3 linked regions of the Homo sapiens genome follow. The protein of the gene in region 2 interacts with the protein of the main gene of each other region in a pairwise test. Each region holds a gene or a part of one and is shown on either strand. Other genes may lie near its edges.

Region 1 (3,648 bases), on a different chromosome or scaffold from region 2:
CTGAGGTCTCTGACTCTGACACAGAAAGGGACCTCAGGCCTGGTGGAGCCGAGTGGAGGCAGGAAGAAGGAAGCTAGGGTCCCATGGGGCCACGACAAGAGGGTTCCACACACACCCGACTCACCATCCGGCAGCGCTGCTGCAGCTTCAGCACCTGGGCCTGCAGCCGAGCGACCTCCTGCTGCTGCCGTTCATAGTTTTCCAGCCTGAGCACCAGCACCTCCGACAGCTCAGCCATCTGTTGGCTGGCCTCCGCTGGGGAGGGCAGAGGACAGGTCAGCCCTGGCTCCCCTGGCCTTCAGGGACCAGCTCTGGCCCTCCCAGATGCCTCTGTCTCCCCCACCCTCGGCTGCTGCGCTGTGCCAGTGGGTCCTGCAGGGCTTTGCATTCCTCACTCAGGTCTTCCATTCAAGAAATGTTCATTGACTGATACTGAGCAGGGCACCAGGGTGAGTGGTCAGTAAGACCCAGCCGCCACACTGAGGTAAAGTTGGTGGGGAGACAGACCACAGTCACACATCATACAGGCCATGATGGGCAAATGTCAAGGGTGTACAGGGCAGGGGCATCACAGCTACAGCACCCAACCCGACCTGCAAGGTAAGGAAGGATTCCTGGAAAAAGGAACCACTAAGCTAAGACCACAGGGCAAGTGAAGCTCACCCAGGCAAAGAAGGAAAAACATGGGTCCAAGCTGACTGGAAAGGCCCAGAGGCCATCATAAGACACTGGGACGGGGAGGGCCCAGAACAGTGCACACAGGCCAGACCACAGTAGTGGGCAAGGGGGTGGGGTTTATCCTTTGGCCAATGGAAAGCTATTTGGGAGTTTTAGGCACAGTAATGACGTGGTCAGACTTGGGTTTGTTGGTTTATTTATTTATTTATTTGAGACCGAATCTCTGTCGTCCAGGCAGGAGTGCAATAGTGCAATCTTGGCTCACTGTAACTGCCGCCCGAGTCCAAGCGATTTTCCTGCCTCAGCCTCCCGAGTACTTGGGATTACAGGCATGCGCCACCACGCCCAGTTAATTTTTGTATTTTTAGTAGAGACGGGGTTTCACCATGTTGGCCAGGCTGGTCTCAAACTCCTGACCTCAAGAGATCCACCTGCCTCTGCCTCCCAAAGTGCTGGGATTACAGGGGTGAGCCACTGCACCCGGCTACTTGTTTTTTAAGAAATGAGGTCTTGGGACAGGCACAGTGGCTCATGCCTGTAATCTCAGCGCTTTGGGAGGCTGAGGGGGATGGATCGCTTGAGGTCAGGATTTCAACACCAGCTTGCCCAACATGGTGAAACCCCATCTCTACTAAAAATACCAAAATTAGCTGTGCATGGTGGCGCATGCCTGTAATCCCAGCTACTCGGGAGGCTGAGGCAGGAGAATCGCTTAAACTCGGGAGGTGGAGGTTGCAGTGAGCAAAGACCACACCACTGCACTCCAGCCTGGGTTACAGAGGGAGCCTCCTTCTCAAAAAAAAAAAAAAAAAAAAAAAAAAAAAAGGAAATGCGGTCTTGGCCGGGCGTGGTGGCTCACACCTGTAATCCTAGCACTGCGGGAGGCCAAGGCGGGAGGATCACTTGAGGTCAGGAATTCAAGACCAACCTGGCCAACATGGTGAAACCCCATCTCTACTAAAAATACAAAAATTAGCTGGGCACGGTAGCACAGGCCTGTAATCCCAGCTACTCAGGAGGCTGAGGCAGGAGAATCACTTGAACCTGGGAGGCGGAGGTTGCAGTGAGCTGAGATCATGACATTGCTCTAGCTGGGCGACAGTGAGACTCCGTCAAAAAAAAAAAAAAAAAAAAATTTGCCAGGCGTGATGGCACACACCAGTAGTCCCAGCTACTCAGGAAGCTGAGGCAGGAGAATCACTTGAACCCAGGAGGCAGGGGTTGCAGTGAGCCAAGACTGCAACACTGTACTCCATCTCAAAAAAAAAAAGAAAGAAAGAGAGAGAGAGAGAGAGAGAGAAGGAAGAAAAGAAAGAAAAGAAAGAAAAGAAAAGAAAAGAAAAGAAAAGAAAAGAAAAGAAAGAAAGAAAGAAAAAATGAGGTCTTGCCAGGTTCCCAGGCTGGGGCTGGAGTACAGTGGCTATTCATAGGTGCGATCCTATTACTGATCAGCATGGGAGTTTTGACCTGCTCTGTTTCTGACCTGAGCCAGTTCACCCCTCCTCAGGCAACCCAGTGGTACTCCACTCCCTGGACCATACTGACCCTGTCGGCATAGTGTACTACAGCCCAGAATTCACAGGCTCAAGCAATCCTCCCACCTCAGCCTCCTGAGTAGCTGGGACCACAGGTGGGAGCCCCTGCACCTGGCCAGGTTTGGTTTTAGAAAACTCATTAAGGCTGTGTGCAGAAGTTCCTGGTAGGGCGCGAGTAGAGGCAGTGCGACCAGTTAAGAGGTATCTTGGGCTAGAGGCAGCCCGAGTGGGGAGGGGGAAAAAGACTTAAGCCATTCCTAGGAGGTAAAAGCAACAGAGCTTGGGGACTGGTTCCTACTCCAGTAGCCTGGGGACCAGTGGGGCCATTCAGGGAGTTGCAGAACCCAGCAGGAAGGAAGGTCAGTTCTGGGGTAAAGGGAACAGCAGGAGTTCAGCTGTTGCCACTTTGCGTTTGCATCTCACCAGCTACACTTGAACTCCTCAGGCACAAACACTGCTCCTCACTCATCTTCATAAACACACAGTGCCTAGGACGATGCCAGGCACAGCCACTGCCCCGTGCATGACTCTGAACTGTCCCAGCCCTGGGTGCCTGGTCTCTGGCAGCTCATGGCTCCCTCTTGCCTGCCCCAAATAAGAGAAGACAGGCTTGGAGGAGACCCACCTTTTTTTTTTTTTGAGATGGAGTCTTGCTCTGTCGCCCAGGCTGGGGTGCAGTGGCGTGATCTAGGCTCACTGCAAACTCTGTCTCCCAGGTTCAAGCAATTCTCCCACCTCAGCCTCCCAAGGAGCTGGGACTACAGGCTTGTGCCACTGCATCTGGCTAATTTTTGTATTTTTAGTAGAGATAGGGTTTCTCTAAGTTGGTTAGGCTGGTCTCAAACTCCTGACCTCAGGTGATCCGCCGGCCTCAGCCTCCCAAACTGTTGGGATTACAGGCATGAGCCACCGTGCCTGGCCTGAGACCCACAATTTCTGTATAGCTCTTTATAGTTTGCACAAAGTACTTCCTCAGCTGTTGACACTCTTAATCTTCATAAACCCTGGAGAGATCAGTGGGGCTGAGAAAATTAATCCCCATTCTAAAGACAAAGGTTCAGAGAGGTCAAGGAATGTATCCAAGTTCACACAGCTAGGAGTGCCAGATCTGGGACTTGAACTTGGATCTCCATACTCCACATCTTGAGTTCTTTTCTCTGCTCCTTGGGACAACCCCCCACCCCGAGTGACAACATTACGTACAAAACTGCTCCACACACTCCAGAATGAGCATCTGTTCCTCATCCTCAAGAGTGTCGAGTTGAGAGGCCTGGAGGGAGACAAAGAGGAAGGGACAGGGAAGTCAACACCCCCTGCTAGCAGGGACGCCCTCCTCCCCCATTCTCACCTCTTCTCTCAGCTGATGATTCTCCTCCTCCAGCAGCCTCAGCTTCTCCTGCAAGGCTTCCAGCTGTGGGCAGTGGTGCTGGTGCAG
Region 2 (3,356 bases):
ACCTTCTATCCTGACCCTGTGGTGCTGGGCAGGTCACTTCCACTCCCTAGACCTCACATGGTGGATAATGAGAATGGTGACGTCCTCGTGGGGCTGCCATGAGGGTCACGGACCTTGTCCACCATCAGTGCAGTTTCGGCCCTAGTCAACGTCACAGAAAACAGCAAGCAGAGATCTTGGGCTGAGGCCCGTCAGGGCTAATGGCTGGCATTACTTAGACTGGGTTCCCTGGCAGCCAAGCCAAAAAGGGAAATCGGGCAGTAACTAACTGCTGTGTAAGGCCAGACTGGCAGACCTGCCTCTCCCCAGCGACCCGTCCTCCACACAGTGGTCCTGCTTGGGGTCAAGCCCAGACACTCTGGGCTGATCCCTCCCAAGCCCAAGCCCTTGTTCAGCATCTCCAGGACCCCTGAGCTGTGTAGCTGTCAGGATCTACCTTTATTCGCCCCATGTCCTGACGCCCAGCACATAGCAGATAACCGGCACATCCCCACAGGGCGGCAGGGTCAGGCCATCACGCTGGTGACACAGTACGACATCCACCTGGTGCACGCCATCGAGGAGCAGATCAGTGAGTGGGGTTGGGGTGGGTGGTAGAGAAGGAGGGGTGGGGTGGGCAGAGGTGGGCACCTCGGGGTGAGACCCATTTTCCCGTCAGACACCAGCCGGCCTGCTCCCGTGAGCAGATTTAGGCTGGGGCTTCCTTCCCTAGGCACCCCCAAAAGAAGTTCTTTTGCCCATTTATTGAAACAAACTCCCCATAGTTGTCGCCAGCAGCTGAAAGCCACATCAGTCAGGAGGGGACTTGGGTTTCTTAGACTGAGATGTATGGAAGGTCCCTGAGATGTCAGAGGCCCCATTGACAGGGCCTGGCCTGCTAAAAACCCCTGGGAATGGTTTCATATGCAGCCAAGACAGAGACACTTCCTAAGGTATCTCTGATCACTGCATAGACTGTCCTGAAATTTAGAAACATCTGGACTTGGCCAGGCACAGTGGCTCACACTTGTAATCCTAGCACTTTGAGAGGCCGAGGTGGGCGGATCACTTGAGCCCAGGAGTTCAAGACCAACCTGGGCAACATGGTGAAACCCCGTCTCTACTAAAAATACAAAAATTAGCCAGGTGTGGTGGCGCACGCCTGTAATTGCAGCTACTTGGGAGGGTGAGGCATGAGAATTACTTGAACCCGGGAGGCAAAGGTTGCAGTGAGCCAAGGTCGCGCCATTACGCTCCAGCCTGGGTGACAGTGAGACTCTGTCTCAAAAAAAAAAAAAAAAAAAAAAAGAGAAACATCTGGACTTTAAGGCCGGGCACGGTGGCTCACACCTGTAATCCCAGCACTTTGGGAGGCCAAGGTGGGTGGATCACTTGAGCCCAGGAGTTTGAGATCAGCCTGGGCAATGTGGAGAAACCCTGCCTCTCCAAAAAATATAGAAACTAGCAGCACACGCCCGTAGTTCCAACTACTCAAGAGGCTGAGGTTGGAAGATTGCTTGAGCGGAGGCTACAGTGACCTGATTGAGCCACCACGCTCCAGCATGGGCGACAGAGTAAGACCCTGTCTTCAAAAAAAAAGAAAGAAATATCTGGACTTTAAAGGACACTGTTTGCAAGAAATTAATATTCATGGTTAAACTCATAATGCTGCTAACACCGAAAAAAAATGGCGGGGGGAGGCTGAGGCATGAGAATTACTTGAACCCGGGAGGCGGATGTTGCAGTGAGCCGAGATAGTGCCACTGCACTCCAGCTTGGGTGACCGTGAGACTCTGAAAGACAGCGGTCCATACCTTCCTTACCTCAGAAATCCCTGATCTTGCTCAGCTGACCCTTACCTGATATGGCCCCAGATGGCCTTGCATACCCCACAGCATGGGGAACTCACTACTTGGCTGAACTCCCTCTCCATGTCACGTCTCCTCCCCACCCCCACCCCCGGCTTTGCTGTCCCCACAGAGAAGAAGCTGGAGGAGTTCTCCGTGGAAGAGGCCGAGGTGCTACAGATCCTCACACAGGTCAACGTGGTGCGAAGAGAGTGTGAGATCGTGAGTGTCAGAGGCGGGCAGGAACTAAAGTGCTCTCCAGGGCCGGGGGTGCTCCCTTCCAGGTGGGGCCCCCGTGACCAGCATCTCCTTACCCCACTTCCCTCCACCAGAAACTGGAGGCGGCCCACTTTGACGAAAAGAAGGAGATCAACAAACGGAAGCAGCTGATCCTGGAGGGGAAGGTGAGGGCCGAGCCCGCAGGTAGGGGGTGGGTGGCCAGGTTCCCTGGCGGGGGCCGCCAGCTCAGCCATCCCCTGGTCCTCCCTGTGCCAGGACCCTGACCTGGAGGCCAAGCGCAAGGCTGAGCTGGCCAAGATCAAGCAGAAGAACCGGCGCTTCAAGGAGAAGGTGGAGGAGACGCTGAAGCGACAGAAGGCTGGCAGGGCTGGCCACAAGGGGCGTCCACCCAGGACACCGTCTGGGTCCCACTCAGGCCCAGTCCCCTCCCAGGGCCTGGTCTGAGCCCCACACGGCCATCTGCCCAGTCCTTGACTCGTCCATGGAGCTGAGGGTCGGAGGAACCTTCCTTGGGGGCAGCAGCCCTTCCCGGGGGCCTACCCAGTGCCCCACAGCAGAACCCGTGGGCGCTCGTGTTGTGCGGGCCCTGCTCCTCTGCCCCGAAACCACTGGCTGGTCCCTTCCCTGAGCCCTGGCCAAGATTCAGGCTGCAGGGGAAGAAAGAACATGACCGGGAGGTTGTGACCCCAACCCAAGGTCACCCCCCAGGGGTGCCGCATACAGGAGGTGCTTAATAAACGGGTCTTTTGACTTCCTCAGTCTGACTTTCGAAGAGCAGGGGGACAGGAGAGGTGGGGTGCAGCCGCTGTTGTTTCTCAGGTGTCTGCCCAGAACACCATGTCCATTTCCACCAGGCAGGCCCAAAGTTTTGCAGACACCAGCTGCTCGAATGGCCATGGGATTTTGGGCCCTGAAGCCCCTTCTCTGGGCTTCCAGTTTCCTCATCTGGAGAATGGGCATAGCAACTGCCCTGCTCTCCAGAGGCAGCTGTGAGGCTTTGGTGAGGTCAGTCCTGTGCCGAATGGGTGCAGCTATAAGCTTCCCTGGCCACCCACCTGGCCACATCTGGGGTTTGTGGCCAGAGTGAAGGGGCCATGAAAGTCCAAATTTGGCCAGACAATGTGGGCTAAGCCCAAGGGGACAGGCAGAGAGACACCAGAGCCAGCTTCCTGGCTGTGTGGCCTGGACCCCCCTCGGACTCCAAGCCTCACCCCTCATCTGCAAGCGGCTTATAACTGCTACATGGATTCAGGGGCACCCAAAAAGACGCAGGGAAAGGCGCCGGCGACA
Region 3 (3,748 bases), on a different chromosome or scaffold from region 2:
CCAGTCAAGTGTTCTTGGACAAAACACAATCCCCGGGCCTCCATTCTCTCATTCATAAAGTGGAGAAATTTTATCATAGTGAGGGATTTATTTCCCTAAGGTAAGCTGCAAACTATACCCTCTTCACTTTTCCAGTCAATTTCTAGGCATCGTTTGCATGGCTTTCATTCCTCCTGTTCCTGGTATGTGACAATGCATGAGACACACACACACACACACACACACACACACACACACACACACACCCCAACAGGCATTCTTCTTCCCTTTCCCTTCACCTTGAGCTGCAGATGCTCCCTCATCCTCTCTCTCTTCAGCAGGTGTAGAATCCTGACTTTGAGTTGGTGATTCCACTTCGTCAGGTTGCTCATCACTGGACTCCTTGTGGTAGGGAATATGTGTGTGAGTGTGCAAAGACAAAAAGTTTTGTTATTAATACATGTCAAAAAATATATACGTATACACACAGAGAATGCATAGATGTTTCTGATCATAACTAAACCTAAAAATATTTCTCCAACTTTATTCTATATGGTTAATAAGGCTACTCTACCCACAGAAAGGTTACTGCGAGAAAAGTTACCCACAAGGACTTTGGAAGCTATTGCACTCTATGTTGGAATAGATGTGTATAATCTATGTGTCATTCACAAGCAAAGCATGAGAAAGAAGTCATGGCCAAAAGTTGGAGAACACAAGAGAAAAAAAAAATCCTCCTGAATCAATATTTCCTTCATGAGATACCAGAATCTTATTTTTTTAATCAGCATGAACTACCTTTATTAGTGTATCTATACTAATGCAACAACACTATCACAAAAATTAATTTCTGCTAATAGAAAACATCGAATTAACGTTAAAGCACTCAACAGCATAGGCCCAATTACCTCAGAAGATTCTACATAGATCATTGGTCTACGCCGATAGATTAATCTTCTTAGAAAACCCATATTTCACACTGAAAAGAGAAAATTGTGATTGGGAACATGCACTTGAGAGGACAGCTATATTCGATCACTTCCATGGCTAAATGTTAACTTGTCATTTTAATTTTGAAAATACTCTCAAAATAAGTCCCAGAGTTAAGTGCAAGTGTGTACGTTTTCTGAGTGCTTGCAAAGCCACTTATGCTCCCCAAGCTGGCAGAGTAGTCATCTTAAGGCATGTGGCAAAAGGCAGAGGACATTATTTTAAAATTTCTTTTAGACACAGAATCTCGCTCTGTTGCTCACGCTGGAATGCAGTGGCGTGATCACACTTCACTGCAGCCTCGACCTCCCGCTCACGCGATCCTCCTGCCTCGTCCGGAGTAGCTGGGACTACAGGCGCGCACCACTGCGCCCCTCTGACAGAGGACGTTTCTGATGAGGTTTAGTTTCACAAGCGGACTCCACATGAAAACACTAGTGAATCACAATTCCCGTGACTGCTGCTTTTGGCACACTCCCACTTACTAGAGCCATTCACCCCCCTCAAATCAAGTTTGGTTGGGCCACACAGCCTCTCCCAGTCCTTCCCATTGTTTCCGGACCTTCTATGGCAGAGGTGAGACCTTGCCACGCTTCTCACTCGGGTGTTTCTCACTCGGGCACTCCCCACTCCACACCGCTGGGGGGCGCTCACCAGCCCACAGCCTTCCCAGGTTCCAGGCCCCTTCTTTACCGCCATCTTCACCACCCACCTCCCGCCTCGGGGCCCCATTCAGGACTCAGGAATGTGCCCTGTGTCATGGGTTCCTACCACCTCGGGACTTTGACCCCTCCAACAGCACCCGCAGCACTCGCCTCATTTTCACCTGAGCCCCTGACCGCTTCCCCTTCATGGCCCACTTTCCTCCCTGTCCTGGCCCCTTCACGACCACAAAGCCGATGGCGGCGTCGCAGCCTGTGAGGAGAAGGAGGACGAGCTCGAGGCCCTTCTCTTTTGGAGGCCACTGAGGCCCTTCTCCCTCAAAAGCCACACACCACCAGACCGAGGGGCCCACCGAACCTGCCCGAAGCCCACTGGCTCCGCCTGAAGCCCACTGGCTCCTCCTCACCCTCACTCACACTTCAGCCCCTGGGAGGACTGGCCTGCGGATCTACCAGATGAGTCTCAGTAGAGGAAAAAAGTGTCCGGACAGCAGGAACGCGACTGCACACTCTCACAGCTCCCTGGCGTTCTCCACGTGGGCGAAGGGGCCGACGGGAAGGCACCCAGTGAACATGCGCACTGAGGCTAGCACCCAAAGGTGGGGAGGGCTGCAGTTCCCAGCCCCACACCCCACACTCCCGATTTTCATCCCCGTGAAGATAATGGAATCCGACCTCCCTCTGCTGTTTCATATGCCTCGGGTACTCAAATACCTCAAATAGTGCTCCCCTCAAAACTCATTCCATCTTCAACTGAGCCCCCCTCCCCTCCAGGGCCCTCTCTTGCTCTGGCCCTGCCATAGGGACAAGGACCATGGTGGCTGCCTGTGAAGTGAGGTAGACGACCTGCTAAAACAGAAATAGCAACATACCTCATAGCATTATACAAGACTAAGAGTCTCATAACTAAATATTAAAAATGTCTAGCATATAATTCAAAATTACTCAGAATATGAAGAACCAGGAACATAGGGCCACTGAAATAGGGAAAGACAATCAGCAGACATCACTGCTAAGATAGAGATGTTGGGATTATGTGGGAAAGCCTTTAAAGATGCTATTTTATAAACGCTTAGGCTGGGCGCGGTTGCTCATGCCTGTAATCCCAGCACTTTGGGAGGCCGAGGCGGGTGGATCTCTTGAGGTCAGGAGTTCGAGACCAGCCTGACCAACATGGTGAAACCTCGTCTTTACTAAAAATGCAAAAAATTAGCTGGGCATGGTGGCGCGCACCTGTAGTCTTAGCTACTCGGGAGTCTGAAACAGGAGAATTGCTTGAACCCAGGAGGCAGAGGTTGCAGTGAACCGAGATCACGCGACTGCACTCTGGCCTGGACAACAGTGAGACTCCGTCTAAAAAAAAAATGCTTAAACAAGCAATCATGAACACTGTTGAAACAAGTAAAAACAAAGTCCTGGCACACACACAAAAAAAGAATATTTAAAGAAGAAGCAAATGGAAATTTTAGAAGTGGAAAATATGATAACGAAGGAAAATAATTCTCCCCAAATGGATTCAATAGCAGAATGGAGACAAGAAAAGAGTTTGTGAACTCAAAGATAGAGAAATAGAAATTGTTCTGTGTGGCCAAGAGCAGTGACTTACACCAATAATCCTAGCACTTTTGCGTGCTGAAGTAAGAAGATAGATGGCTTGAGGCTAGGAGTTTCCAACCTGGGCAACATAGTGAGACCTTGTCTCTACAAAAAAACAATTAAAAATAGCTGAGTGTGATGACACATGCCTGTAGTCCTAGCTACTGTGAAGGCTGAGGCAAGAGGATCCCTTGGGCCCAGGAGTTCAAGGCTGCAGTGAGCTATGATCACACACTGCAGTCCAGCCTGGGCAACAGAGTGAGACCCTGTGTCTAAAACAAAACAAAAAGAAATTGTTGAAGTGTCTCATAACCTGATATTCAAAATGTCCAGCATATAATTCAAAATTACTCAGAATACGAAGAAGCATGAAAGTTAGGCATCTTGGCCAGGTGCAGTGGCTCATACCTGTAATCCCAGCATTTTGGGAGGCTGAGGCAGGTAGATCACGAGGTCAGGAGTTCAAGACCAGCCTGGCCAAGATGGTGAAACCCCATGTCTACCAAAAATACAAAAATTAG

Evidence for each region.
Region 1: the proteins of DDX49 (region 2) and HAP1 interact in a two-hybrid assay, tested with the Homo sapiens proteins (one large-scale study listed by BioGRID and IntAct).
Region 3: the proteins of DDX49 (region 2) and PAGE1 interact in binary tests that used the Homo sapiens proteins (3 or more experiments, as listed by UniProt).

What each region holds. Positions count from the first base shown.
Region 1 is NC_000017.11:41,728,077-41,731,724, forward strand, and holds part of HAP1 (huntingtin-associated protein 1), read right to left. Parts: coding exon 3,562-3,648; intron 3,484-3,561; coding exon 3,417-3,483; intron 256-3,416; coding exon 125-255; intron 1-124. UniProt on the Homo sapiens protein: Originally identified as neuronal protein that specifically associates with HTT/huntingtin and the binding is enhanced by an expanded polyglutamine repeat within HTT possibly affecting HAP1 interaction properties.
Region 2 is NC_000019.10:18,925,807-18,929,162, forward strand, and holds the end of DDX49 (probable ATP-dependent RNA helicase DDX49), read left to right. Parts: intron 1-496; coding exon 497-571; intron 572-1,959; coding exon 1,960-2,048; intron 2,049-2,158; coding exon 2,159-2,230; intron 2,231-2,321; coding exon 2,322-2,510; 3' UTR 2,511-2,824; downstream 2,825-3,356. UniProt on the Homo sapiens protein: ATP-dependent RNA helicase that plays a role in various aspects of RNA metabolism including the regulation of mRNA export and the levels of pre-ribosomal RNA. Regulates the stability and synthesis of pre-ribosomal RNA and thereby regulates cell proliferation.
Region 3 is NC_000023.11:49,693,821-49,697,568, forward strand, and holds the start of PAGE1 (P antigen family member 1), read right to left. Parts: upstream 2,165-3,748; 5' UTR 2,049-2,164; exon of another isoform or gene 2,039-2,048; intron 959-2,038; 5' UTR 951-958; coding exon 888-950; intron 382-887; coding exon 279-381; intron 1-278.